Homo sapiens: one gene and its partners. The protein of the gene in region 4 purifies or fractionates together with the protein of the main gene of each other region. This does not show direct contact. Each region holds a gene or a part of one and is shown on either strand. Other genes may lie near its edges. The genes, in order: FRMD5, GRAMD2B, TMEM131 and GRAMD1B.

Evidence for each region.
Region 1: the proteins of GRAMD1B (region 4) and FRMD5 purify together in Homo sapiens (co-immunoprecipitation; 2 studies listed by BioGRID and IntAct, with this or other methods). This does not show direct contact.
Region 2: the proteins of GRAMD1B (region 4) and GRAMD2B purify together in Homo sapiens (affinity purification with mass spectrometry; 3 studies listed by BioGRID and IntAct, with this or other methods). This does not show direct contact.
Region 3: the proteins of GRAMD1B (region 4) and TMEM131 purify together in Homo sapiens (affinity purification with mass spectrometry; 2 studies listed by BioGRID and IntAct, with this or other methods). This does not show direct contact.

What each region holds. Positions count from the first base shown.
Region 1 is NC_000015.10:44,192,252-44,199,192, forward strand, and holds the start of FRMD5 (FERM domain-containing protein 5), read right to left. Parts: upstream 3,021-6,941; 5' UTR 2,804-3,020; coding exon 2,702-2,803; intron 2,196-2,701; exon of another isoform or gene 1,976-2,195; intron 1-1,975. UniProt on the Homo sapiens protein: May be involved in regulation of cell migration. May regulate cell-matrix interactions via its interaction with ITGB5 and modifying ITGB5 cytoplasmic tail interactions such as with FERMT2 and TLN1.
Region 2 is NC_000005.10:126,419,280-126,426,415, forward strand, and holds the start of GRAMD2B (GRAM domain-containing protein 2B), read left to right. Parts: upstream 1-4,129; 5' UTR 4,130-4,327; coding exon 4,328-4,410; intron 4,411-7,136.
Region 3 is NC_000002.12:97,992,936-98,000,505, forward strand, and holds the start of TMEM131 (transmembrane protein 131 precursor), read right to left. Parts: upstream 3,014-7,570; 5' UTR 2,728-3,013; coding exon 2,541-2,727; coding exon of another isoform or gene 2,271-2,540; intron 1-2,270.
Region 4 is NC_000011.10:123,433,253-123,440,277, reverse strand, and holds part of GRAMD1B (protein Aster-B), read right to left. Parts: intron 4,845-7,025; coding exon of another isoform or gene 4,811-4,844; exon of another isoform or gene 4,563-4,810; intron 1-4,562. UniProt on the Homo sapiens protein: Cholesterol transporter that mediates non-vesicular transport of cholesterol from the plasma membrane (PM) to the endoplasmic reticulum (ER).

The DNA of each region.
Region 1 (6,941 bases), on a different chromosome or scaffold from region 4:
AGACAAATACTTTGACAGAATTTCTTATAACTGAAATTTACCAAATGGAACTATCATGACTCCAACCCAGTGATACATTTCTGATTCTGTAATATCCTAAGTAGTCTCTGATTATGCTAAGGCAGTAAAATCATTCTAAAATAGATACTTTATTTAAACAAAAATATGGCATACAACACTTTAAGGAAAATGAGTTCAAATTATCACCATAAAATATACAGTGCTACAATGCCTAAAATGTTGGGAATATTGCTTAACCTAATAAGAAGTTCACAGATCCTTTCCATACTGATTTAAAAGATCCTATGCCCAGTATTTAACAAATAAGCACATGCACATATACACACACACTCACTACAGAAATGCATGAAGGGAAAAGCTGATAAGAAAAGCTCAATTTCTAAATGTTCAAAAAAGCTACATGCAGAAAATGTTAATTTCATATAAGATACTGTCTTTTTGCTACATTTCCTCACATGGGTAAAAACAAAAGCAATTCGCCAAAGTGATGCCAAAGAATGACAACATTACATATACTTAACAATCCCTGTGTTCTTTAGATTCCATGCAAAAATCACAATGCACAATCATTAACATGTCTAGACAGTGGACACTTACTACAGTGTGGCCATATTACACCAAGCTTAATTTTTTAGGTGGCCTAGATATTTTATAAAATTAAATTGTAATAATGTAAAATGAGAGCAGTAGGAAAATAAGTACAGCTATAGTGGGATATAGCAAGCACAAATCCAATAAGTCCTATTTAACTCAAAAATATTTTTTTTCTAAATGGTAATAAAAACTACCCACAATTATAATACCAATCAAGCAACCTCAAAGGTTCCACTAACTGGGAAAAAAATAACTATTTGCCTCACTGCAATACTTTAAAACCACAAGGTTAACAATCATTTCTAGCGAAATGGTGATGTGAATTGTGTTTTATTTGTATTCTACACCTTGGCAAAAGTTAATGACCTGCCTCGGAAATTATTTCACATACCCCAAAAGTATTCTTAGGACTTATAAAGTCTAAATCTCACACTCCCCTTGATATGCTATTGGATAAATGCTTTAAATTTTAAAACAAAAGGATAAAGACTTTTAAAAAGCTCTAGACAATATACTCAAATGGTGAAGATATCAACTCAATGTATTCTCATACCCCAGCAAAACAAAAAAAGCAAAAAAAAACTGGACATGGCACAATGATACAATAGGAACAAAAAGTAGTATTCCACTCATTCAGCAAGGAAATAATACAGAGCATCTCTCTATCATATTCAACTACAAAAATCCTTTCACTTGATGGCTAGCATCTTTATGACTGCTTAGTCTGTATTTAAGTAGCCTTAAAAAGAGATTTTGTGCTCTTTCTCTACCCTCATGGATCTTTGGCAGCAGTCAGCACTTATGCCCAGAGCTGGTTTCGAGGGGAGGGAGAAAAGGGAAAGTGAGGAGAAGGCTGAACTGAGCACGGAGTCAGCAGAGACCAGCTGCTCTCATACACTACCCAGTGTCTTTCTCACACACCGCTATTTTCCGCGATTGAGCACTGTCAGCAAAAATAAATAAATAAGGAGGCGGGGGGCAAGAAGACACTGAGGGTAGGACCCAGGCCGACAGTTTTTGTCTGTCACATCTGAGCCAGAAGCCTCCTCCTGTTTTCCTGCTGCAAAGGCAAAGGATCAGGTGAGACCCCTCTGGGTCCAGCTCAATTAGCTTCTCCACAAAGAGCAGCTTCCGGCGATGAGCGCAGGATCCTCCTGGCTGATGAACTAAACACGGGAGCATTGTCAATGTTTTCAATCTCTGACTTTTTCATAAGGGAGGAGAGAGGGCTGTGACTGCATTCCCGGGAAAGACTACTACTCCTGACGTGCACACAGCAGTAGCGAAGGAACATGAGCAAGAGGTTGTAAAAATCCCTTCAAAAATACCAGGTTCTGAAAGAAATGCTGTTGAGCATTACCGTATTGTTGGCGTTTTTCCTAAGTCGCCGATTCTTCCTGGCCACTTCCAAGCCCCAAATCGCTGGGACTTGTTGCTAAATCTTTACCTCACGTCCCCTAGAACCGCCCAACACAATAAAATTTGGGGATCAAAAGGCGGGAGGGGGCCTAAATCTCTAAAACCCAGAGGACTGGGCTTCCTTCAATAGGCCACTCCGCATGGGCTGCGCGTTCAGTTCTACCTTCTGAAAGCTCTGACTCACAAATGGTGGGGGGAGGAATTATGACATAAACCATTATCCTTCCAACCCAAGAAAGATAAGAAAAGCCAGCCATACGTCCTTGCCCGGGCAGAGAGCCAAAGCCTGCGCCCCCGACGGGGCGGCCGGGCTAGGAGCCTACCGCCCTACCCGCCTCCCTCCGGGCGCCCCGGAAAGGTGCACCTTACTCGGGCGGGCTCGAGGAACCAGGACGGGGCGCCCTCACCCAGGGAGAGCAGGGTAGGACTTAGGGGTGTGGGACGCGGAGACTCGCCCCGCGGCGGCGGTGACACACCGGGTGCCAGGGCTCCGGCAGGGGCTCCGGTGAAGACGCCCTGCACTAGGGCGGTCCGCCGCAACCAGGAACGGACAAAGCACGGCGCTGGGGCTGGGGCGACCCCTGGGCGGCGGCCGCCGCCGGCCAAGTTGACCAGACTTGGGGGACAAGGGGGTCCCGCGGGCGGGGCGGGGCGGCGCGGCGCTGACCTGGATGGTGCAGGTGTACTCGCTGTCGTCCAGCAGCCGCACGGTGCAGCTGTACTCGCGCTCCAGGCTCCTGCTGCTGCCGCTCATCAACCTGCTCAGCATCTTCCCGCCCGCCCGCCCGGGAGCGACGCGGCGGCGCTGCGGACCCTGGACCAGGCGTCCCTCAGCCCGGCAGCTCCGCACCGACCCCAGGCACCTGCACCATCACCCCGGCCCCGTCGCTGCCGTTGCCTCCTGCTGGCCTCGTTCCTCCTCCTTATCCTCCTCCTTCCCTCAGCCGCCACCGCCTCCCCCCAGCCCAGATCAAGCGCCGGGCTCTGTCTCCTCGGCGCCCCAGTGCCCGTGCCCAGCTCGCGGGGCGGGGCCTCAACTGGAGGGGGCCAATGGGGGTCAGCGCGGCGGAACCGAGTGGCAGACCGAAAAGCCAATCGAGATAGAGTACTGGGATGATGGGCGGGATAAAGAAGCAATCACAGAAAAGCAGTCGGACCTAGTCAAGCCGGAGCAGCCCTCTAGCGTCCCAAACGAGGGGTTCCTCTCCGCCCCGTGGTTCCTATGGATGCTGTTTCCCCTCCCCCGGGCCAGGTGTGAGCACCCAACTGGATTGATGTCTGCCGCCTGAAATACACTTGATCTGCGTTTCCGAAGCCAAGCCTCGCACCCTGCAACACCGCGGTTCCCGCCCTCTTGGGAGCCGGAGCGAGGAGGCGGCAGGGTGCTGGATCACAGTCCCTGCACCTGCAGAATGCGGATACCTCTCGCTCCAGATAGGGCGACTGCCCCCGACCTGTGCTGTACCCTAAGTTGGCCCGTCTGGCCTCTGTGCTCCAGCCCTCTTATTTTGGGAAACAGGAGCTACTTAAATAAAAGCTAAAGGGACCTCAGAGGTTCTGAAGTACCCAGGTTTAATCCCCTAAAAAACCCTCCACTCTAACACCCTTTGCCTCCTTTTTATTTCAGAAGACAAAAGGAGACTGCTCCTTCAGCTGGTAGGGAGCAGAGGAAGCAATGAATCTTCTCCTTGCACTTTTAGAACTGGAAATTATGTCTTCAGACTTTCTCAATAGAACAACATAGTATGTCAGGAGGTATACATCACAAAGAATTGTCTCCTTCTCTTTGTCACCCCAAATTTACAGACTTCAAGGTTTTTTACCAGAACTTCAATAAGAGATATTCTCCCTCAAAGATTTTTGATGTGAGGAAATGTTATAAAATAATTATGTCGGCCGGGCGCAGTGGCTCAAGCCTGTAATCCCAGCACTTTGGGAGGCCGAGGCGGGCGGATCACCTGATGTCAGGAGTTCGAAACCAGCCTGACCAACATGGTGAATCCCCGTCTCTACTAAAAATACAAAAAAATTAGCCGTGCATGGTAGCACGCACCTGTAATCCCAGCTACTCGGGAGGCTGAGGCAGGAGAATCGCTTGAACCCAGGAGGCAGAGGTTGCAGTGAACCAAGATCACGGCCATTGCACTCCAGCCTGGGGGACAAGAGCAAGCCACCGTCTCAAAAAAAAAAAATAATCGTGTCAACATAGAACATTAATGCTGTAATAAATATATTAATTTAAAATAATGAAATAGGCATAATTTCCTATTACTTTCATTTGCACTGTTCTTGTTTATAGGTATAATGTGTAACAAAAATGAAACTCTACATTAGCCTAGAAAACTATCCCGCCTTTAAAGTATGCTTCTTCCCTAGTGTCTTTGGATTCCAATATTTTCCCCAATTTTTTTTTTTTTTTTTGCATGGGGAGATTCATTCTCTTTCATTCTCTCTCTCTCTCTCTCTTTCTCTCTCTCTCTCTCTCTCTCTTCCTCCCCCTCTCCCTCCCCCTTTTTCTTTCTATCACCTTAGTAACCTGGACTGCTCTTAATTGGTTGCATTCTCCTTTGTGGCATTTAATAGCCATAGGAGCAGGATTCTCTTTTCAATGCAATTTGGATGGAGTTAGTTATGAGTCTAGAACTAGTAAGTCAAGTGTTCCAGGCATAAAACCAGGCATGCGCTCCACTACTTTGTAGCTTCAGCAGGTAGTCTGATGCCTGAAACATAATAGGTATTCAATAAGTGTTGAACTGAATACAAAAATTAGCCGGGTGTGGTGGCATGCGCCCGTGGTCCCAGCTACTGGGGAGGCTGAGGCAGGAGAATCGCTGGAACCCGGGAGGTAGAGATTGCAGTGAGCTGAGATTGTGCCACTGCACTCCAGCCTGGGCAACAGAGCAAGACTCGGTCTAAAAAAAAAAAAATTGATGAACTGAAGTAAATGGAATTGACAGGTGTTCTACAGCACTTAAATCCCAGAGGAAGAAGACCTGTGAAGAAACTCAAAATTTCAGGAAGATCTTGGAGACAAGTAAAATTATTAATATGCCAAAGTGATATTCTACAAAGCTCAGCTTTGTTATGTAGCTGTAAGAAGATAATGAAATATTTCAGGCTGGGCGCAGTGGCTCACACCTGTAATCCCAGTACTTTAGGAGGCCGAGGTGGGTGGATCACGAGGTCAGGAGTTCAAGACCAGCCTGGCCATCATGGTGAAACCCTGTCTCTACTGAAAATACAAAAATGAGCCGGGCATGGTGGCATGTGTCTGTAGTCTCAGCTACTCAGGAGGCTGAGGCAGGAGATTTGCTTGAACCTGGGAGGCGAAGGTTGCAGTGAGCTGAGATTGGCCACTGCACTCCAGCCTGGGAGACAGCGAGACTCCATCTCAAAAAAAAAAAAAAAAAAAAGAAAGAAAGGAAAAAAAATTCAAACTGAAAGAGCTTTTGTTGAAGGCAAAAGTTACTGTTTGTTATAGAATCAACAAGAGCAAGAAAAAATGTCCAAGCTAGAGGAAGTCCATAAGTGTGATGGTAGGAAAGTGTTTTTAACAGGTTATCCAAATAAGCAGCTGTTAGAATGAAAAGGCAAAGCACTATGAATCCAGAAAAGCTCTAAGGAACTGAATGCAGTCTTTTTTCGAAGTATGGCCATAGTTGCAATCAACAGAGGTGAGACTGTATTTCCTATGTCAATGTGTTAAGTAGAATCCTTGCTCAGTCTGAGAAAATCATGTCTGAGGCTGGGTGCAGTGGCTCATGCCTATAATCCCAACATTTGGGAAGCCAAGGCAGGCAGATCGCTTGAGCTCAGGATTTCAAGACCCACCTAGGCAACATGGTGAAACCCCATAGCTACAATAATAATAATAATAATAATACAAAGATTAGCTGGGTGTGGTGGCACACACCTGTAGTCCCAGCTGCTGGGGAGGCTGAGGTGGGAGGATTGCTTGAGCCTAGGGGGAGGGGAAGGTTGCTGTGAGCCAAGATCACACCACTGCACTCCAGCCTGGGCAACAGAGCCAGATCCTGTCTCAAAAAAAAAAAAAAAAAGGAATTAAAAAAAATCACATCTGCTTAGATGCTCACCTCACCGAAAGACCAGTTAGATATTCATTCATGCTTAGGTGTAATATCCAGAGAGAACTTCAAACTCTCCCTTCTTCTCTGATACAAAACACTTTGTGAGGAATACAGAGAATGAAAAAATAATGGAAGAAAAGCAAGAATCTAGATGTATGTCTCCACAAAAAAGCTCATGAGAAGAAGCATAAGGAGAACTAGAAAGGAAGGGCTCATATAAAACCAAACTGAATTTTGGGAGACTGGGCAGAAGAATCAATTGAGCCAGGAGCTATGACTGCATCACTGCACTCCAGCCTGGACAACAGAGCAAGACCTTGTCTCCAAATAAAATAAAAAGTAAAACCAAACAGAAATATTTTGTTTATCTTTGTTTTCCTCAAATCTATTAACTAGGATGCCCAGAATGGAAAGGGCTTATTTAATAAAAGGCCTTATTTGCCCTTGAGAACCAGCGTGCCATAGCTTTCATGTGTCTTTAAGTATAAAGGAGGCCACATTTAAAAATAAGAATCCAAATTATAATGGCTCTGAACCCCCACCTTCCAAATTATCAGAATATCAGCCGTCTTTTGAATTTCTTTTCCTTCTCTACTATGAGGGAGTCCCCAGGGGAGGTACTATCCCCCACGTATGCCTGAAAAAACTAAACAAAGCATTTCGTGTCTCTGCTTCAGATATTCTATACCCTGCTGTTCTGGGACACTGGTCTCTCTCTTTAGCCAATGCAACCTTCACCATTTCTTTAGATTTTGGCAGGAAGGAGTACTGCCCTCTCTTCACCAAGACATGACAAACACAGGCCCTTCCCATCAAAGT
Region 2 (7,136 bases), on a different chromosome or scaffold from region 4:
GCAAGCACCATCTTCACATGGTGAAGCGAGAGAGAGGTGAGAGAGAGAGAGAGAGCGAGAGAGAGCGAAAAGGGGGAGGTGCTACACACTTTCAAACAACCAGATCTCATGAGAACTCTATCACAAGACAGCACTAGGAGGGTGGTGCTACACCATTAGAAACCACCACTATGATCCAATCACTTCCCACCTCCAACACTCGGGATCCCAATTCAACATGAGATTTGGGTGGGGACACAGAGCCAAACCATATCACCTTGCAACCAAATCTCCACTCAAGTCTCCAAACACATTATTTGTACTCTGCCCCCAAGAGTATGAACAGATGCACAGTGTATGTGCTCAATGTTAAGGAAGGCCAATATCTGACCAATATCAAACATCAAAGCTGTTTGCATAGAAGCTCCCACCCACCAAAGGTGTTATGTCTGGCATCTTCTACCAAAGTGGTTTTAAAAACTAGAAAAAGTATCAGCTAGAAATCTTCTTTGCTTTTGCCAGGCATGGTGGCTCACGCCTGTAATCCCAGCACTTTGGGAGGCCAAGGTGGGCAGATCACCAGGTCAGGAGTTCGAGACCAGCCTGGCCAATATGGTGAAACCCCGTCTCCACTAAAAATACAAAAATTAGCTGGGCGTGGTGGTGTGTGCCTGTAGTCCCAGCTACTCGAGAGGCTGAGGCAGGAGAATTGCTTGAACCCAGGAGGCAGAGGTTGCAGTGAGCTGAGATCGTGCCACTGCACTCCAGCCTGGGCAACAGAGCGAGACTCTTTCTCAAAAAAAAAAAAAAAAAAAGAAAGAAAGAAAAGAAAAGAAATCTTCTTTGCTTTTAAAAACAAGAATTTGGATTCCCAGAGACTTAGAGGAAGAAAAATAATGTCTCTTATTGGTACAATATCAAAGGGCATCCTAAAACATATTTTAGGCATAATCTTTTTATCTTGTCTCCTCTCACATATCATAGGCATAATCTTACATCTCTATTTTGTCACATGGCAATGACATTTCCTTTATTGTTTATCTGCCGTGCCTCTTGAATACTATATTCCATATATTACTGTAGAATAGCCCCAAGAATAAACAAATTAGGCAGTTGTTTAACAATGCCTTTTAAACGTAAGCAAACATCAGTAGGTAAAATATTGTAGCTTACTTGCTCCTTTCTAATTCTTCCACTCTAGGAAAAGACTGATATTTTCCCTACCAGCCCTGCCTTCCACTTCAACCTCACCTGCTCCTTCTCACTTAAAACCACACCATTGGAAGTCCTTATACCATGCACTAAAGAACTTTAAGCTATTTTAGGGTAACTGAGTGCTCTTTATTTGAGCCATAAGCCCATGCTAAGACTGCTTTGAATACTTGCCCTTACTCATGCATTAAAAGAGGGCTGACCATGATTTCTCAAAAGGGTAAACATAGACTACCATATGACCCAGCAAGTCTACTCCTAGGTATATATCCAAAAGAAATGAAATCAGGGACTCAGACAAACATTTGCACACCCATGTTCATAGCAGCATCATTCACAATAGACAAAAGCTAGAAACAACCCAAGGGTCCATCAACAGATAAACGGGCAACCCAAATGTGGTATATACATGCAATGGAATATCATCCAGCCAAAAAAAAATGAAATTTGGATATATGCTATGACATGGATTGACCTTGAAAACATTACACTGAGTGAAACAAGCCAGACACAAAAGGAAAAATATTGTATGATTCCACTAATGTGAGGTACCTAAAACAGACAAATTTATAGAGACAGAAAGTAAACTAGAGGCTACCAGAGGCTGGGAGGAGGTGAGAAAGAAAGAGTTATTGTTTAATGTATTTAATGGGAGTTTATGCCAAGGATGATAAAAAAAAGTTTTGGGTACAGATAAGTGGTGATAGTTAAATAACATTGTGAAAGTGTTGAATGCCACTGAATTATACACTTATTAAAATGATAAATAGTAATGTTATGTATATTTTACCACAATAAATAAATTACTTAGCGGGGAAAAGTCAGTCTGATCTGAGCTCTGTAATGAGAAGTTGGAGTGCACCTGAGATCTGAGAGTCCTCATCCAGAGTTTGGGAAATTGACAACCTCATCTCTGTTCCAAACCTATCCCTATTCTGAGGAGGGTGGGGATCTAGAGGTGAAGGCATCAGGAATGTCCCCAGGAAGAGGCAACTATGGGCACCAAGGAGACAGCCTTCAAGCTTTCAGGTCACCCAGAGTTTTCCCCATCCCACCTAGCACAGCTCCTATAGCAAAGCAGTCAGTGGTCAGGAAAGAAAAAGAGAGAGAGGCCTGACTAAGCCAACTCTTCTGGAATTTATGTAAGCTTTTTCTTTTACTTATTTTTCAAATGTCACAAACATCAATTTTGGAGCAAGCAGGCTACAAAAAGATGCTTTTGTTCTCTCAGCCTAATGATATATATGTAAAAAGAGAAGGAATAAGAAAACTTTGGAAAGAACTTGCACCTCCAAAATGTTTGAAGTTATTTAGAAGGTTAGGTGTTTTACACACACATACACCCTACAAACTACATACATACATGTACATACTATGGTTGTATAGTCTTTGTAATACTCTTAAATCTAAACTTTATTTTAAGAGAAAAATGAAGGACTTGCAGCCCCAGAACATAGTTAGTCGTTTTTTCCCAGGCATGTCATGCTCTACTGTTGCCACTTGTAATTGTTTTGAAGTCAAGTCAGGCTTCCAATAATAACGTTTATATTAATTATTCTAATTGTCAACTACTCCATTGCAAATTAGAAAACCACCAATACAAATGTCATTTGCTATAACAAGTCAATGTTTATACAAGCTTGCCCAACCTGCAGCCCAGAACAGCTGTGAATATAGCCCAATACAAATTCATAAACTGTCTTATAACATGGTGACATTTATGCACGGATTTTTTTTTTTTTTTTGAGACAGGGTCTCACTCTGTTGCCCAGACTGGAGTGCAGTGGTGCATCTTGGCCCACCACAACCTCCATCTCCCAGGCTCAAGTGATTCTCCTGCCTCAGCCTCCCAAATAGCTGGGATTACAAGCGCCTGCGCCACCTCACCCAGCTAATTTTTGTATTTTTAGTAGAGATGGGGTTTCACTAGGTTGGCCATGCTAGTCTCGAACTCCTGACCTCAAATGATCCACCCGCCTCGGCCTCCCAAACTGCTGGGATTACAGGCGTAAGCCACCGTGCCTGGCCCCTGCACAGACCTTTTTTAAAGCTCATCATCTATCCTTAGTGTTAGTATATTTTATGTGTGGCCCAAGACAGTTCGTCTTCTTCCAATGTGACCCAGGGAAGCCAAAAGATTGGACACCCCTGATTGAGAACAATGCCTGGAACTTTGTAGCTCTCAAAAGTTTGTTCAATGAATGAATGAGTGAATGCTTCCAATACAAAACCTTAGAACAGGCAAGTCAAAATGTCACCAAAAGGTGGGAAGAAGAGGCATTCACGGTACTGGTTGAGTGCATAGTAAATAAGGTACTTGCACAACTATGGGCAACAAAGAGACGGCTTGGGAATTATCAAACACCAATTTTGATTTTGATGAGAACAGTCATAACCCAATATTTGAAGATTTTGATGGTTGCTTCTTCTTTGCCCCTCTAACCACCCCCCCCACCCCAGAACGATGAAGGGTTAACCAAAACACCACCAAAGGCAACTACTTATTACCTTTGTTATTCCCACATAAAAAATTGAGCAGACCTATTGTTTAAGCAGAAGAGGCAGTCCCTCAATGAAGCAATATCCTGTTTGAATAATTTAGGATGGGGCATAGGCCAGCCCACACAGCGCATTTGTGTGACAGGGCGTCCCACTCAGACGTCTCCATTTCCGGTATCTAGAGCCGGCTGCCCTCTAAAAATCCCCCTGTTACAGTCGGGATAGAAAACAAAAAGCTTAATTTACCAGGAGGCTAAACAGATTGTGCCTTCTTAGGCAAATGTTCCACCTGCTTGGCCAATTAGCTTCCTCTCCCGAAAGACTCGTTCAACAGGTTTCCTTTTTCTCTTCTCTGCCTCCTGGGTTGGGGAAAGAGGCTGTCACTTCGCTTCGACCCTCCCCTTCCCTCCCTCTCGGCTTTTCCACAGTGGGTCGGACCAATCGCGCCCGCTCCGACGTGTCCAGGTCCGCGGCCCCGGGAGCTTGGCGCGGCCCGGCCTGGATGCGCTGGGCGGAGGGTGCAGGGGAGGGCACGGCGCCGCTTGCTTGGCCTGCGCACCCGGACCTAGAAGCCGGGACGAGCCGGGGCAGAGCCAGGCGCGCGGAAGTCTGAAGGTGCCCTCCAGACACGGCCCCGATGACTGAACTACAGCAAGATGTGGAAGACACAAAGCCTGCGAAAGTGCTCGGGAAGAGGGAGAGCAAACTTGGCTCAGCCCAGTGAGTATTCTCAGCTGGGACCCATCCAAGGAGGTGGGAGGAGCGCAGCCTAAACTTCTCTGCCCCGGGACGCATTTTGGGTGGATGCGGATTTCTGGAGCTCCTATATGGACAATCTTGTGGCGCGCTCTCTCTGTCTCTCACTCTCTCTCTCTGTCTAGATATTCAGTTAAGGAGATGGTTTAGATTGATTGAAAAGTCTACTGTAGGATTTAAACAAATTCTCTTAATTCAAAACTCACTGGATGTTGGGAAAATAATTTTGTAGAAAATAAGCCTAACCACATTGAAGCTCAAAGTCCCAACACAGCCCTTCGTTTAGAATGACCATTTTCACAAATTCATTTTAGTTCAGCAAATAATTGAGTATCTACTTGTTCAATAACGATGGGCAATACAAGGATAAATGTTATTTTGGATCTGCCCTTCTGGAACTTCAAGAGCAGAGTGGGGATGGGGGAGGCACAAATGAATATTACTGTACTTCAAGGGACTTTGGTGACCATTGCCACATTAAACACACAGACAAGGTATGATAAAGAGTTTAGCCTATAATTGAGTCTTCTCTACTTTTAAAATATTTATCTATTTTGCAGTCTTTGGTAAAATTGGTTTGGGAGGAGAGGTTGTTTTTTTCCTACAAAGTGGTATTTTCTAAGCCTACTGAAGTCACTTCTAATTCAGTCTATGATTTTAGACACTAACCCTTCTGAGCTCTAAAACTCTTGTTCTGGTATCAGGATATGAGTAATTTAGGAAGGAGGGATATGTATTATCATAAGGTTATACTGATGTGATAATTCCACTTTGAAATCATTTTAAGTTGCCAAATTTTTGTGCTTAGAAACCCGGTCTAACTTCTGTTTTGAACTTCATAACTTACATTAATTATCACTAGGCTCAAAGTCTTGTTGAAGTCTGGGTGTCCCCATGGACATTTCTTCTAAGAGGATTAGAATGACTTGCTCCTCACAATTTCCCTGCGTCTGTAACTGCACCCATGTAGACCTCATCACCTAGAGCCTTAGCCTCCTAAATAATAGTAGCTGGCACTTACTGAGAATGCTTACTATGTGACAGGGAGTGTGCTCAATACTTTAAATGCATTCTCACAAAGAATGAGGCAGGTGCTATTATTTCCATGTTGCAGATAAAAGCACTGAAGCTCTGAGAAGCTAAGCAGCTAGGCAGAGTCACAAAGTTAATAAAAGAGCAGCCAGGATTCAAGCCCAGGTCTCCTAACTTTACAGCATGAACTTAGAACCACTATGCTGTACACTGGTTCCTCTGTTCCAGAATCTATGATGGCCTTCCATGGCCTACTCTTAAAAATAGGCTTCTCTGCCAAGATTTTAAGATCCTTCATGATCTGGACCCACACAGACCATTGCAACCTCACTTCCTAATACTAGTCAGCATGCACATCTTTTATAGCCAAACAATCATACTAGCAGCCCTATACTTAAAGGAGTGATATGCAGCACTCCCATGTTCATTGCACATTACTCACAATAGCCAAGATATGAAATCAACCTAAGTGTCCATCAACAGATGAATGGATAAGAAAATGTGCTATATACACAAGATACGAAATCAATCTAAGTGTCTATCAATGGATAAAGGGATAAGAAAATGTGGTATATATACACAATATTATTCAGCCTTTAAAAAGAAAGATCATTTGTGACATGGATGAACCTAGAGGACGTATGTTAGACAAAATAAGCCAGGAATAGAAAAACAAACACTGCATGTTCTCACTTAAGTGTGACATCTGAAAAAGTTGACTCAGGCCAGGCAGGGACTGTGGCTCATGCCCATAATCCCAACACTTTGGGAGGCCGAGGCTGGAGGATCACTTGAGCCCAGGAATTTAAAACCAGCCTGGGCAACAAAGTGAGACCCTGTCTCTACAGACAAAAAAAAATAAGTTAAGCATGATGGCGCACACCTGTGGTCCCAGCTGCTCGGGAGGCTGAGGTGGGAGAATCTCTTGAGCCCAGGCAGTTGAGGCTACAGTGAGCCATGTTCATGCCACTACATTCCAGCCTGGACACAGAGTGAGACCCTGTCTCAAAACTAAAATTTAATTTAATTTAAAAATAAATTTAGAAGTTGGATTCATAGAAATAGAGAGTAGAATGGTGGTTTCCAGGCGCTGGAAGGTAGAAAGGGTGGGGAAGGAGGGAATAGGGAGTTGATCAGAGGGTACGAAGTTTCAGTTAGGAGGAATAAGTTTTGAGTTCTATTGCACAGCAAGGAGATTAGTGAATAATAATATGTTGTATATTTCAATATAACTAAGAGTAAATTTCAAATGTCTCACCATAAAAAATGATAGGTAAGCAAGACCATAGGTATGTTGCTTGATTTAATCATGCCACATTGTATACATATACCAAAACATTACCCTGTACCCCATAAATGTAAACAATTATGATTTGTCAATTAAAAATAATATTAATTTTAAAATAATTTAAAAATATATTTCTTATAAAATTCAAAAAAAGAAGTGATATGCAGAAGGAATAAGGAACTGGTATGCCAAACATAGGAGCAAATGAATCCCCTTCTGTCTTCACTTTTCCTTACTGCTATTCCTTTCCCCTCTCTCCTCTCTCTTCATCTACTTCTAGAAATCAACTCAAGTTTTCCTTCATGTGAAGCCTTCCTTCATTACTGGCCATACTCATCTCTTCTTTACCAGTGCTCACCTTGTACATATG
Region 3 (7,570 bases), on a different chromosome or scaffold from region 4:
TACCTTTCCTCTGGACTAGTGATAGCACACTCCCATAGCTCAGTTAAGTCATATAGGATGTTAAGACAAGGAATGGTCCATGCTTCTGACTCAAGAAAATCAACATCAAGTCCAAACATGAAAAACTACATTAGGTAATTTATTTCTGCAGCTTTTCTTCAGGAGACAATGAGTTTTATTGTCTTTTAAAGATTTTGCAGTGAAATTATACAGTAATGAAGGAAAAGAAATACAAACATACAAAATACCTGCAGAATCATCATTAAAACTGCAGGTAAATCTTAACTTTGAAATTTTAAACTAGTTTATGCTACTTCAATAGACACAAAATTCCTCCGGGTGTGAATGATCAAACTGAACTCAGCCATCTTCAGAAATCTGCCCAAACTTGCTGAAAAACTCAACAGTACCTTTTAGGACAAATACTGTATTTGTGCCTCATCAGATGCCAGACTCACAGTGTCACAATCACGTAAGAAAATAAATTGCTTTTCCCCTACTTACTCAGAAACAATACTGGAATATGATCAGTTTTAAAGGAGAAGCCATTTCTGGAGATACCTTCACAGAATATTTGATTAGAACCAGATCTGTTTATGATGGGTAGAGGCCTATGTTCTATATCAGCATCATCTCCATTAATATCTTGGATAACCGCACACACAAATTGTTCATACAGAAAAGCATGGGCCACAAAGGATATCTGATTCACCCAGGCCACTGGCTGATTCAACCACCCCTTTAATACATACTTAACACCCTGGCAAGTATTCTCCTCATCCAATCCTTACACACATTTATGGGTATTAGAGAGGTGCACTAACATGTATAAACTATGCAAATGAGAAATTAGCAAATATATTTTAGGCTGACAGTTCTCAAACAAAAGGTTTGTTTACTTAACTTTACCCAGAGTAAAGTTTTTATTAGCATATAAAATGGCTGTTGGAAAAATCAGCAGCAGTAGAAGGAAAATACAAACTTAATGCTTTACTAGATTCAACCATTATTTCAATTCCCTGTGCTAAGGGCGCATGAAGACAGTCATTCACTCAAAGGCTAAGCGCCAGTGTGTCTGGCACTGTGCAAGGTAAGCAAAGGAACAGAAAAACAAGGACACAATACCCACCAAGGTCTACTTGAAGTCCCACCCAAAAAATGTCCATTAAATTACTGCACTATTTTGGGTTCACTGAACACCCACTACAGGCCAAAATGCTAGGTGCCACGATCACACATAAGAAAGAACACTCAACTAACTGCAGATCTGTGGCCAATGATGTATTATGACAACCCCAGGACCGACTAGTCCTAAAGCGGCAATATTTTATTCTGGAAATAATTTTGCTTCCATCAATTAATCCTTTCTATAGACGACAATTCTTTGAATAATTTCCACCAATGTTAACTCAGACTAAGGTTGCTTAGAGAGTTAGATAAGGGAATGTAATGTGGACAAAAATAAAAGAAACAGTATACTGAAGCACATTTGCACTTTAATACTAATTTGGTTTGTATTTGCTTTCACCTTCAGCAACAATAAAAAGCAAGTGACTTTAGTCATAAAGTAGAATGTTAACTCTAAAATTACCGTGGCAAGAAATTGTTTTCTTGTACAGGCAGTTTCATGTGCAATGCTAAACTAACAAGTTTTGCGTGGTTTGTTTTTTTTTTAAACTATTCACTTAGTCAATTCTTCATGAAGGCTCTGTGACCATTCACATGTCCCTTGGCTCAAAAAGAGGTAGTGTAGATGAAATTACACTGATTTGGTCTTCAAGATTACAAAATAATTTTTGACCCTGTCCAAGTACCCGTTTTGCAGCAGTACAATACTAATGAGATTTTTAAAATAGGGGCCAGCCCTTAACTGTAAATTATAGATAAATGCTTGCAAGCTGGCAACTTCACGTTTATTTTTAAAGGCTTTCACATCAAAGATAAAGGCACCGAATCACGTATTTTAAAATAAGAAATGTAAACAGGCTTTCAACAGCTTACTAAAGAGTTAAATGGAATTGTATTTAGGTCTAATAATAAAGTTATCAATAACGCAGAGACACTAAAGGAGGAAGCTACAGGACCAAGATTTCCCCTCGAAGAAATGTCTGAACAAATTCAAAGTGAAATTTTTTAAGCTGTGTCTCGCTATTTTTACCACATTTTAAAGTAAGCTCTGTCTGCATGCAACCAACCGCAACCAAGAAAACAGAAGTGTCCTAAAATGTACCTATTCGCCGCAATAAAGCCAAAAAATATGCCCCTCCTACCTAGCGGGCCAAGTGGCAAGAACGTACGAGAAGTCAGGAAGTTTTGAAATGGCAGTGACAGGAGACGGGGGAAGGCACGGGAAGGAATCACGGAGAGCGAAGGCCACTCCGTGCGGCGGGCGCCGCGAGGTCCCGGCTCGGGACGGTACCCGACCGCCCAACTTTGCGCCGGAGCCCCGGCCGCGGCCCTTCCTCCCGGCCCAGCCCTCCCGGCCTCCGCGAGAGCGGGGTGACAGCCCCGCCGCAGGGACGCCGCCGGGGGACACCCACCTTCCTTCTCGGCCCGCGCCGCAGCCACTACGAGGGTCATCACCAGGTGCAGCGCGCCTAGGAGGCCGGCGGCCGCGCTCCGCGGGCCCCCGCTACGGGCGGCCGCAGGTTCCAGCCCGGCCCCGGCGGACGTGGAGACGGCGGCGGTGGTGGCTCCGGTTGCTCCTCCTCCCGCCCGCTTCCCCATCCCTGCCGGCCGGGGGCCGCCGCGCTCGAGGTCCGGCGCGGCCCTTCTCGGCGAGGCGGCGGCGGCGCGGAAGCCGTGGTCCGGGCTCTGGCCGCGGCGCCGGGAGCGACAACGGTTGCGAGCCCGGGGCTCGATCTCCGAGCGTGGGCCTGGGTCCGTGCGTGCGTGTGAGCGAGAGTGTCAGTCACGGTCTTTGCCTGGGCATCGCCTACAAGCAGTCGGAGCGGAGAGGCCGCGGGTCAGGCGCGGCGGGCGGCCATACTGGAAACGGGCACGGCCCGCGAGCCCTGAGCGCTGGCCTGCGAGGGGCGGGGCGCGGCTCTGGGCACCGCCCACGCTGTGCCGACACCTGGGCTGTCCGGCGGTCAGTCTGTCCGCCCCGGAGCCCCCTGGGCCCCACCTCCTCGTCCCGCTCTCGGAGGCCTGCGGCTTCACGGCCAGACAGAACCAGGACAGAACAACCCCAGCCCGTTACCGCTACCTGGCGCAGGAGAAGGAGGGAGGCAGGCCCAGGTCCAGCTGCCAGGACTTATGATGGCGGCTTCTGCTTCGCGGAGGCGGTGTCGGCAATCACGTGGAGACGGGGCGGCCTCGCCGCGCAGCCGCCGCGTTGCGTGGGCGGGGCAGGGGCGGAGTTGCGGGGCGCTAACCTCTTCTCCGGCGCCTGGGCAATCCTCCGTGCTCTGTCCTACAGTGGTAGAGCCTTCCAGGGGTGTGAGTGCGCATACAGACCGCGAGACGAGCGCGGAAGGTCCGTTCCAGTGACTCTTCCTGGTGGCACCCCCACCTCTCGACCGCTTTGACGTCGAGAATACCCCGGGCCTGACTCAGTTCTTGATGGTGCTTCCTTGAGGATGGTGGCCCGCTGAACTCATCCTTGGGTCTTCCAAATCATGGTACCCAGGAGGAGCTTGATGGAGTCCTCTTGCCTTGGCTTGTGCCCACATTGGCGCGGAACACCTCGTGTGCAGAAAGCGTCGGTGACTCTGGATGGAGAAGGCAGGGGCAAACAGACTGCTCTTTAGAATATCCAGTAGCCGGCTTCCTCTCTCGAGGAAGAATTCTTTTTTTTCTTTTCTTTATTTTTTAATTATTTATTTATTTTTGAGACAGGGTCTGGTTCTGCCGCCCAGGCTGGAGTGCAGTGGTGCGGTCTGGGACTACAGGCACCCGCCACCACGCCACGCCAATTTTTCTTTTTCTTTTAAGAAACGCTGTCTCACTATGTTGGCCGAGCAGGTCTCGAACTCCTGGGCTCAAGCAGTCCGCCTTCCTCGGCCTTCCAGAGTGCTGGGATCACAGGCGTGAGCCACTGTGCTGGGCCCGGAAAAATTCTTAAGACGTCTGTTACCTTCACGAGCCATCTCGCGCCTCTTAGATGCCCTTTTCATCTTAGGTTGAGCTTCTTGGTGCGCATGGCTGTTGTCTCCAAGACTTAATTTAAGCTCTTGGAGGGGGTCCTTCTTTACTCATCTTAGTAACTTCCTCCCAGCTTGTAGCCCAGAGACATTTTACTTTCCTTAGCTGTATTTGTTGAGTGAGTCGATATATGTGTAAGGCCAAGTCTGCCCACAGTACGTCTCAGAACAAGCTAGATAGGAAAATAAGGTTTCAGAAAGACAAAAGGAACTCCAGAATCTACTCTATGAAGTAGTCCCCTGTGTCAAGCAAGCACTTAAATTTATTCATAAATTAATATATATTTAAATATGACCTTAGCCTAATGATTTTAAAAAGCAATTTTAGGGCAGGGCGCAGTGGCTCACGCCTGTAATCCCAGCACTTTGGTAGGCCAAGGTGGGCGGATCACCTGAGGTCAGGAGTTCGAGACCAGCCTGGCCAACATGGTGAAAACCCGTCTCTACTAAAAAATATAAAAATTAGCCGGGCGTGGTAGTGCATGCCTGTAATCCCAGCTACTCCGGAGGCAGGAAAAACGCTTGAACCCGGCAGGTGGAGGTTGCAGTGAGCCAAGATAGCGCCACTGCACTATACCCTCGACAAGAGCAAAACTCCGTCTCAAAAAATTAATCATAAGCAATTTTACTTTTTTGAATATTAGCCTTAAAATTGAGTAGTCAAATTTTATTTTGATGTAATGAAATAGGAATAATTATCTCTTAAGTTGGCGTTTAAAATGTCTGAGGCAAGAGATTTCTGGAAGGCTTTTGACTCACGGAAGAGATCAAACCCAAGGATATGTAACTGAGCGCTTTTGCTTAGCCTCCAACGTGCTAGCTCTGCAAGTCAGCAGCCCTTCCCCCATGGCCAGATTCAGGACAAACAAGCCTTTCCAACCATGAAGTGCTGAGGTTCTCTTACACAGCAATCAGCCACATCCCCTGGTTAGCCTGAGGCTCAGCAGCTCCATGGGAAATAACTTGCACCTGTCTGTAATTGGATCTTTAGACGTATACAGACATGTTTGATCAGAGTTCGATTTCCCATGCAGCTAATGAAGCTTAAGCCGCAGGGCCCCCTCTCTTGCACAAGTTCCTTCCAAGTCCCTGAACCTAATTGTGTATTTATAAGCCTGTATTCTTGTTCTTAAAGGAGCCCTCCCAATAGTTGGGTAGGCTTTTAAGGCCCACCATACCTGAACCCTCCCCTGTGCCTGAGGGACACTAGGAGCAGGAGGGGTGATGATGGAACTTTCCTCCCAGGAAAGGACAATGAGGCCACTGAGAGTCTAACAGTGAAAGACGTTTTGCTAGACAGCATGGTAAACTGTGTGTTAGAGAGAACCTGGCGTGGAGCCACCATCACCCTATGATCCTCTACCCCCACTCCCCAACCCTCATGTGTCTCAGGAGAGAACCAGGAGTTAAAATTGAAGGAACCATCACACTAAGGACTCTCAAATAGTTCTGATTAGTTGTGAACTTTTCTCTTTTTCCCTTTTGGAAATTGGAGAGACCTGGCCATTTGGCAGGTGGAGGTATTAGCTGGCAGAGTCAGGGAAAACTCGCTAAACCAGTGGTTCTCAAGGTGTCATCCCCAGACCAGCTGTAGCAGCAACACCTGGGAACCTGTTAGAAGTGCAAATTAGCAGGCCAAATCCCAGACCTGTGGAATCAGGAATTCTGGGTTGAGGTCCAACAATCTGTTTAAACAAGGCATCCAAGTGATTCTGATACAGGCTCAAGATTGAAGACTGTTGCACAGTGATATATGCCAGGAGCTACAAGCTGTTGGGACTCCTCACTTTCTGTTCATTTTGCTCTCTATGCAGGTTAGTAATTTACCATTCAAGGCAGAATTATAAGAGACTCAGACAAATTTGAACTTAAATCCCATCCCTGCCTTTACTAGCTATATGATGCTGAGCAAATGACTTTTCTGGCCTCAGATTCCTAATCTGTAAAAATGGGGATTATGATATAAATTTGGGGAGATTAAGCATATAGGTTTGTGAAGCATATAGACTAGTGTCTGGGACATAGGAGACTGTCAAAAGTAGCTATTAGTGAGCACTCACTCTTTTCAAAACACCACATTAGGCACGAAGATCCTTGATCCATTGATACCTCCACTTCATTCCACAAAATACTTAAGGAGGTGTGCAAGAATGCCTTCTATGAATTAAAACTGGAACTAGGAGGGAGTAAACTGTTGGGCTTTCCAGGGTTCTATCTCCTTTGCTGCATAGGTGAATGCACCTGGTATCCTGCCGTTCAACACCATCTATACACTTTCAGGTCCCCACTTCATGTCACCAGCCAGACCTCGCTGTCTCTATTGCTGTTCCCACTCAGGTGTATAATGAGGTGTCTTAAACTCACATGAACTCCACATCTTCCCATGCAAACATGCTTCACCCACAGCCTTTCCTATCTCCAGGGCAACTCCAACCATCCAGTTGCACAGGCCAAAAACCTGGGAGTCATTCTTTACTCTCTCCACATGTACCCAAATCTAACTGCTTCTCACCACCTGCACTACTCCACTCTGGTATGAGCCCTGTCATCCGCTGCCTGGATTTCTGCAAGAGCTTCCTAACAGGTTTCCCTGTTTCCACCTGTAAAAGAAAATTTTCCACTTACAACACTTGCATAGTAGATATCAAAACGGAATGCTATGCTCTACCACAACTGGTTCTAACCAACTGAAGCAGATCAAGGACTGTGAACTTTGAGTGACCCCATACCAGACCCTTGTTAGACCTAACCAAAGACTCCTTTCTGACCAGTTAACAAAGGGACATGTTTTATCAACACTATTCCAACCTATCCAGAGCACTACTTTCCAGCCCTTAATCCGCATAACCTCCAAACTCCCTTCTCTCTTTCTCACACTTAAAAAACCCTGACTTTTCCTAATTCATGAGTTACTCAGTGAACTTTTTCACTGGTGTGTTTACATCCACCCCTGGCAGTATATAAACTCATCTTTGATTTTTTTTTTTTTTTTGAGTTTTGTTGGGCTTTGCTTTATATTTTGACATAAATTTGTACTTTTATAGTCTATTGTCAACCTGACAGCCAGCATGATCCATTTAAAACATAAGACATGTCACGTCTCTCAATGTTCACATCCTGCAGTGGCCTGCTTAATGTTTTTAAAAGCAGTTGGGGAAAGTGAAATTTTAATTTTTAGAGACTGTATATTAAAAAAAGCAATAACAGGGAATATTTGAATACCCATCTCAGGGTAAAAGCTTCCTTGATCTGGCTTGCCCCGGTCTTTCCATTCCTCCTGGATTCCTCCAGGCTCGGTCTGTTTCAGCTGAAATGACCACCATTTTGTTCCTGGAACATATCAGGAATGCTTCTACTCCAGGGTCTATCCTCTAGCCCTCCACCTGAAGTGCTTTCTCCCCACCCCCTTCTCCCTGGTTCTCTGC
Region 4 (7,025 bases):
TGGCCTCCCAAAGTGCTAGGATTACAGGCGTGAGCCACTGCATCTGGCCGCGTTGACTTTTATGGCATAAAAAATGATTTCTTGTGCTCACTTCAGCAGCACATGCACTACATTTTTTAAAATGATTCCTTTTAAGACAACAAGCTTGAAGACTCTTGGAGAGTCTCAAAAATGTGTCACTAAACTAACCATCCATTGCCTTTCTGTATTTTCCTAATTGCTGAGGCAAATATTGCAAGGGTTACCATCCCCAAACTGGGCGCTCCCCCTCCCCCAGAAAATTATTTTTCTATGGCTGCAAAAAGGAGGGCAAAAACCAAATAGGTTGTTTATTGTTTTTCTAGTCATCTCCCTCAGCTCCATCATTTCCTGGATAAACTTGCCAACCAGAAGCAGCAAGACTGAAAATCTCTGTGGTCAGATTGTGGAGGGAAGAGGCACCAGGCTGGGTGGGGGAACAGGCTTGACCACAGTGATGTGCTGAGAGGGAGAGACCTTAAAAAGAATGAGGCTGCTGCAGAGATGTAATAGGTCTGTTAGAAACTGGTCGAGATTTCAGGTCAGAGGCCTGAGTTTCAGCTCTGACCCTGCACTGCCTCCGTGACGTGCCTGGTCATCTCATTCCTCCATCTCATCTACAGATCAGAATTGGAGAACCGGAGTCTCATCCCAGCTTGAGGACATACAGAGGACACAGAAGGGCTTCATACCCTCTGACTACCCAATGTGTTAGGGCCTCAAAGGAAAAACCCATGGTTTTCTTTATCCCTCCCTTCCACAAAGGGACCAAAGGCACAGCCACATTTTCCTAGTGAGGATTTCGAGCTATATGACAATATCTGAATCGAAAATCCAGACATGTGGTCTGATAACAGAAGAGGATATTTGAAAACAGGAGTGTGTTTAGGAGGTTGCTGCCTATGGTGGCAGGGAGTGGCTGGCTACTGCCCAACATCTCCTCACCAGCTGAGGCATCACCATCCTGCTTCCCTTCTCCCACTGGAAAACCCACATTCGATTTTCTGTTCTGAGTCCCTGAGAGAAGCTTTCTGTTCTGAGTCCCTGAGAGACCCGAAACAAGTCTCCTCTGAGAGGACACTTCCTTCCAGGCTCCAGAGTCACAGGAGAAGAGCTCATAGATTCCCACCCCCCAAGACAATAAGAAGCTATGTCCCTCCTCACACCAGGCACAACAGCCCCTTGGCAAGTCACACACTGATATGTGCTATGGAAGAAAGAATCCCATTGGGGCAAATGCCCCAGGAAAAACCCTCAGGTTTCATCAAGCTCTTGTACACACAGCAACCCAGCAACCACCTCCAGGCTCTCCGGGCCAGCCTTGGCCCCAGGTCTAAACACCTGCTTCAGGGCCAGCAGTTTGCCCACTGGGGTCAGGAAGAAAATTCCCCACTGGCAGCTTAGCCATTCAGACTCCTTAACTTCTGCGTTACCCTAGAAGCAATTATCAGTGACCAGCATAGCAATTGGAGGCTATATAATACCTGGGAGAAATGCACCAACTAGGACAGAAAGATCACCTGTGCATCTGCCCCATGTTCATACCAGCCCCTTACCTGATGTGTAATTGGCACCCTCTGAGTGCATAACCACCAAGGAAATTTTCCAAATACCAACTCCCACAGAGGAAGCTGGCCAGTATGAAATCAGCCCACAGGGTTCCATCTCTACCGTCTCAGTTTCCACAGATTGTTTTAATCTAGAAACCACATCTACAGCCAGGCGCTAGCTGATTCTCACGGAGGAGTCCACCTAGACCGTCAACAGGGTCATCCTCACACCTCTCTGCTTCCCACAACCTCACACACATCTCCTCAATGGCCTCCCGACTGTCCACATTCCTACCTTGCTTCAGGACCTCCCCCTCCACATCTACAAGTTCTCAAGCAGGGGAGGGCTGACTGCTTCCAGGCCCTGGGGGGATAGGGCAGTGGAGCTGTAATGAGCTCAGGCTTTGGAATTAGGACACGCTTCAAATCCCAGCCTTGCTTCTGTTGGACCAGGAGAATGTTAATCTCTGAACTTCAGGTTCCTCAGCTGGAAAACCTGCCTGGGGGGACCGAGGCATTGTTGTGAGGATTTAATGTGATAATGTATTTAAGGCTGCTTGGCAGAAAACTTGGCACAAAGTAAGACCGGTCCCTGCCCTCAAGGAATTATGAATCTGGTGGAAGTTTTTGCCAGTTAACCCTATCCAGCACCGATCACTTACTTAATCCACTGACCAATCATAGGTCTCCTTTGCATTTGTTCTTTGCTTTGTGTTAAGAAGGACATGAGTTTTCTCTCTCCCACACTTCCTGTGCTTCTCATATGTAGCAGGGCACACACAGAGCGGAGAAGCTACACCAATAGTGACGGGGGCTGAGGGGGAGAGCATTCAGATGCACAAAATCACCCTGCTCTCCTGGAAATGGAGCTGAAACCCGAAACAAGTCTCCCTCCAAAGGTCAGAGGAAGGAGATGAAGAATCAAGATAAATATACCAATGCTGTGTATTCATTACAGGCAAACCACACGCCAGCTAGGCTGGCACCAGAGAGATGACCTAGCCTAGCATGCTGGGCACAATTAGTGAGCGGCACTACCAGTGGTCAGACATGGAGCTAAGTGGAAACCCTGAGGCCCTCCACTCTCTAGCCGCCAGCCTGCTAGACTGTGAGCAGTCATGACGGGGGTAGGTGTGTTATGTAGAAGAAGGGACATAACAGCCAGGTGAAAGATGGTACAAAAGATAGTAACAGTGAAGGTATACTGGGCAGAGATGCAGAGAGGTGCTTCTGCATCCCCTAGAAAGAGCCTGCAGTTGGCCACCACCCAACTCACTCACCCGTCGTCAGCTTTCCCTTCCCCCTCCAGAGAGTGATGACAAGAAGACATCCTGGGAGATGTGGTTTCATCTAATTTCTGAGTTTTCTGAACCTAGCAATTCAGAGAAGGGTTCCAATCCTCAGTTTGGGTTCTGAACAATCACCACAACCAGTTTTGGGCAAGGAAGTTAGAAAGACATGTGAGTATTAATGCTAAGAGCCTGCCCCATCAACTGCAGGCTACGCTATTCCCTGAGCTCAGAGGGCAACATGGCCAGCAAAAAAATTGTGCCATCTTGATAGACTGGATTAAGAAAATGTGGCACATATACACCATGGAATACTATGCAGCCATAAAAAAGGATGAGTTCATGTCCTTTGTAGGGACACGGATGAAGCTGGAAACCATCATTCTCAGCAAACTATCGCAAGGACAAAAAACCAAACACCGCATGTTCTCACTCATAGGTGGGAATTGAACAATGAGAACACATGGACACAGGAAGGGGAACATCACACACCAGGGCCTGTTGTGGGGTAGGGTGAGCGGGGAGGGATAGCATTAGGAGACACACCTAAAGTTAAATGACGAGTTAATGGGTGCAGCACACCAACATGGCACATGTATACATATGTAACAAACCTGCACATTGTGCACATGTACCCTAAAACTTAAAGTATAATAAAAAAAAATTGTGCCGTCTTATGTTCAATGGTAGTTAAGATGATGCTTTGCAGTTAGACCACTGAAAGAAAAGAGCAAGACTCCAGGCCTTCACCTCCCCACGCTTCCTCCCCACTACACGGAACAGCAGAAAGTAGTTGCCTCGAGCAACACTTTGAGAGTGTCTCTCCCAAGCTCCAGAATCTACGACAGCTCCTCATTGAATTGACTTCACTTTGCCTAGGAAGCGCTCTGCATATAGGATCTCAATACCTGTTTGATGACTGAGTGATTCATTGAAATTCAAACTCTTTGGCATAAATCACCTTCGGTCTGTCAGCCTCACCACCTTCATTTTTCCACATTCCTCAACAAGATCACATTTGGTCATCCATCTCTATCTTCAAGCCAACACATCCAAACTGCTTTCACCTATAGGCATTTGTTAACCCTTCAAAACTCAGCTCTCTATAGATCAGTGGTTGTCTAGGGCTGGGGAAATGGGATGGAGAGGGTGAAGGTGCTAGCCAAAAAGTATGAGTTTCAGTCAGGCACAGTGGTTCATGCCTGTAATCCCAGCACTTTGGGAGGCTGAGGTGGGCAGATCATGAGGTCAGGAGTTCAAGACCCACCTGGCCAACATGGTGAAACCCTGTCTCTACTAAAAATACAAAAATTATCTGGGCGTGGTGGCGAGCTTCTGTAATCCCAGCTACTCAGGAGGCTTAGGCAGGAGAATCACTTGAACCCAGGAGGCAGAGGCTGCAGTGAGCCGAGATTGAGCCACTGCACTCCAGCCTGGGTGAGAGAGGGAGACTCCGTCTCAAAAAAAAAAAAAAAAAAAAAAAGTATGAGTTTCTTTGTGGGGCAACAAACGTTTTTAAAAACTGACTGTGGTGATGGTTGTACATAGCTGTGAATATATTAAAAACCACTGAATTATGCTTTAAATAGGTGAATTGTATATTATATAAATTATATCTCAATAAAGCTGTTTTTAAAAACTCAGCTCTGTACTCATCTCCTTTTGGAAATTTTCCCACACTCATGAATAAAAGAATTTCACTTTAAACAGTAGAGAAAAAGGAATCATTTATTTACTCATTATTAACTCATCAACAAACATCTATAGATCTATAGATCACTGTAAGAGGTCAGGTACAGTGCTGTGACGATACAAAGATGAACATGATTGGTCTTGGAGTATTCCAGTGAACACTGGAAAGTTAGTAAGCCATGCTGTCTTTACCATTTGTTCCACTTCTTCCTTCCTAGGGTTTAAGGAGAAGAAAAGGGTCTCCTAATCCTCTTCATATTTTCAACTTTGTGCAGTGAAAATCCGCAAGCTTGAGCTTCAAGTCAGTGACAAGTAAAAAAACAAACAAACAAACAAATAATGAAACAAATAATGAAAAAACAAAAATTAAAAGAAATCCACAAGCTATGGCCCTCTCAGCCACTTAACTTCTACCACATCACGCTGAATTTCATAGCAAGCCTGAAAGGTGTTTTTCTCTCTTTTGGAGCAGGAGATTTGGGGTGGGGAATGTGGAGACGTCATGCTGGGCCTGGTATGCTAATCCTCCCTAATCCAGGCCAGAGCAGAGCCATTTTCCAACCATCATTTCCAAATCCTGAATTGTGTGAGGAGGCTCAGGTGCTGCTCCAGGACACGTGAGTATGTAACCTCATACTTTTAAGCAAACATCCATTCCATGTGAGAGACTCACAGAGTAATGAAATAAGCCTTCACCCTTGCACAGCAAGAGGAAGTTTGCAAAACATTTTCACATTCACTACTCTTCAGACTTCCCATTAACCCACAGAGATCCTCTTCCACAAATGAAGAAGGTGAAACTCATGGAGGTAAAGTGAAATGCTCAAGCTAATCTCCATAGCTAATCGATGATAGAACTTAAATATACAGCTGTCTTCTGATATTAAGTCCAATGTTCCCTGCACTCCATTGCCTCTAAATGCCAATTCTATTTTCTTTTGGAAATGGAGTCTTGCTCTGTCGCCCAGGCTGGAGTGCAGTGGTGTGATCTCAGCTCACTGAAACCTTTGCCCACAAAGTTCAAGCAATTCTCATGCCTCAGCCTCCTGAGTAGCTGGGATTACAGGCGCGCACTACCATGTCCAGCTAATTTTTGTATTTTTAGTAGCAACAGGGTTTTGCCATGTTGGCTAGGCTGGTCTCGAACTCCTGGCCTCAAATGATCTGCCTCCTCAGCCTCCCAAAGTGCTGGGATTACAGGCATGAGCTACCACACCCCGCCACCAATTCCTTCTCAGGCCACTTGGTGGTATCTACGAGCACCTATTCACTTGATTGCTGCTTTTCTTGGAAGGAAGCCTTTCATCTTCGAGGCCTAAAAATGATGGGGCTTTGTTTTACACACAATCCAAATAGATTCCAACAGAAGGCAGTATAACAGTAGCTAAGAGTAGATGTGAGTCACACGAATTTGAATTTGAATCCAGAGTCTGCCTTTTCAGATACATATGTTCTTGTTTTTTGTTGGTGGTGGTTTTTTTTTTTTTTTTTTTTTTTTGGAAACGGAGTCTCACTCTGTTGCCCAGGCTGGAGTGCAGTGGCGAGATCTCGGCTCACTGCAACCTCCACCTCCTAGGTTCAAGCAATTCTCCTGCCTCAGCCTCCCGAGTAGCTGGGACTACAGGTGTCCACCACCACACCTGGCTAATTTTTGTATTTTTAGTAGAGACGGTGTTTCTCCGTGTTGCCCAAGTTGGTGGCTAACTCCTGAGCTCAGGCAATCTGCCTGCCTCATCCTCCCAAAGTGCTAGGATTACAGGCGTGAGCCACTGCGCCCGGCTGATACATAGGTTCTTCTAATCCAAAAGTCACCACTTAAAATAACTGCCTGAACTACATCTAGATGAAAATCCTGCCAAATTTTAAGGATATGTCCCCAAATCCAACAAAATGAAGGTTCCACTACACACATAGACAACTCTCGAAACCAGGAATACCTTCCTAAATCTAACCAAATCTACTGTCATCCCCATCCTAGCCAGCAATGCAAGATTTTTTTCTTCATACACACAAAGACACACACACACACACACACACACACACACACACGCACGTAACATTTTAAGCGTTGGGGGTGGGGGTCTCACCATGGCTGAAATGCAGTGGTTATTCACAGGCACCATTATAGCCTACTAAAGCCTTGAACTCTTGGGCTCATGTGATCCTCACACCACAACCCAAGTAGCTGGGAATACAGGCCATGCCATTGCACCCGGCTCTTTTTACCATATTTTGTCCTCAGTATATATGGCAGAATCTCAAGATCAAAAGAAGGTCTCTTTTAGTTTCTTTTACATTGGAGGGAAAAGCCGACAAGCCATGACAAACTACTTTATTTATTTATTCATTTAAGATGAAGTTTCGCTCTTGTTGCCCAGGCTGGAGTGCAATGGCGCGATCTTGGCTCACTGCAACCTCCACCTCCCGGGTTCAAGCAATTCTCCCGCCTTGGCCTCCCGAGTAGCTGGGATTACAG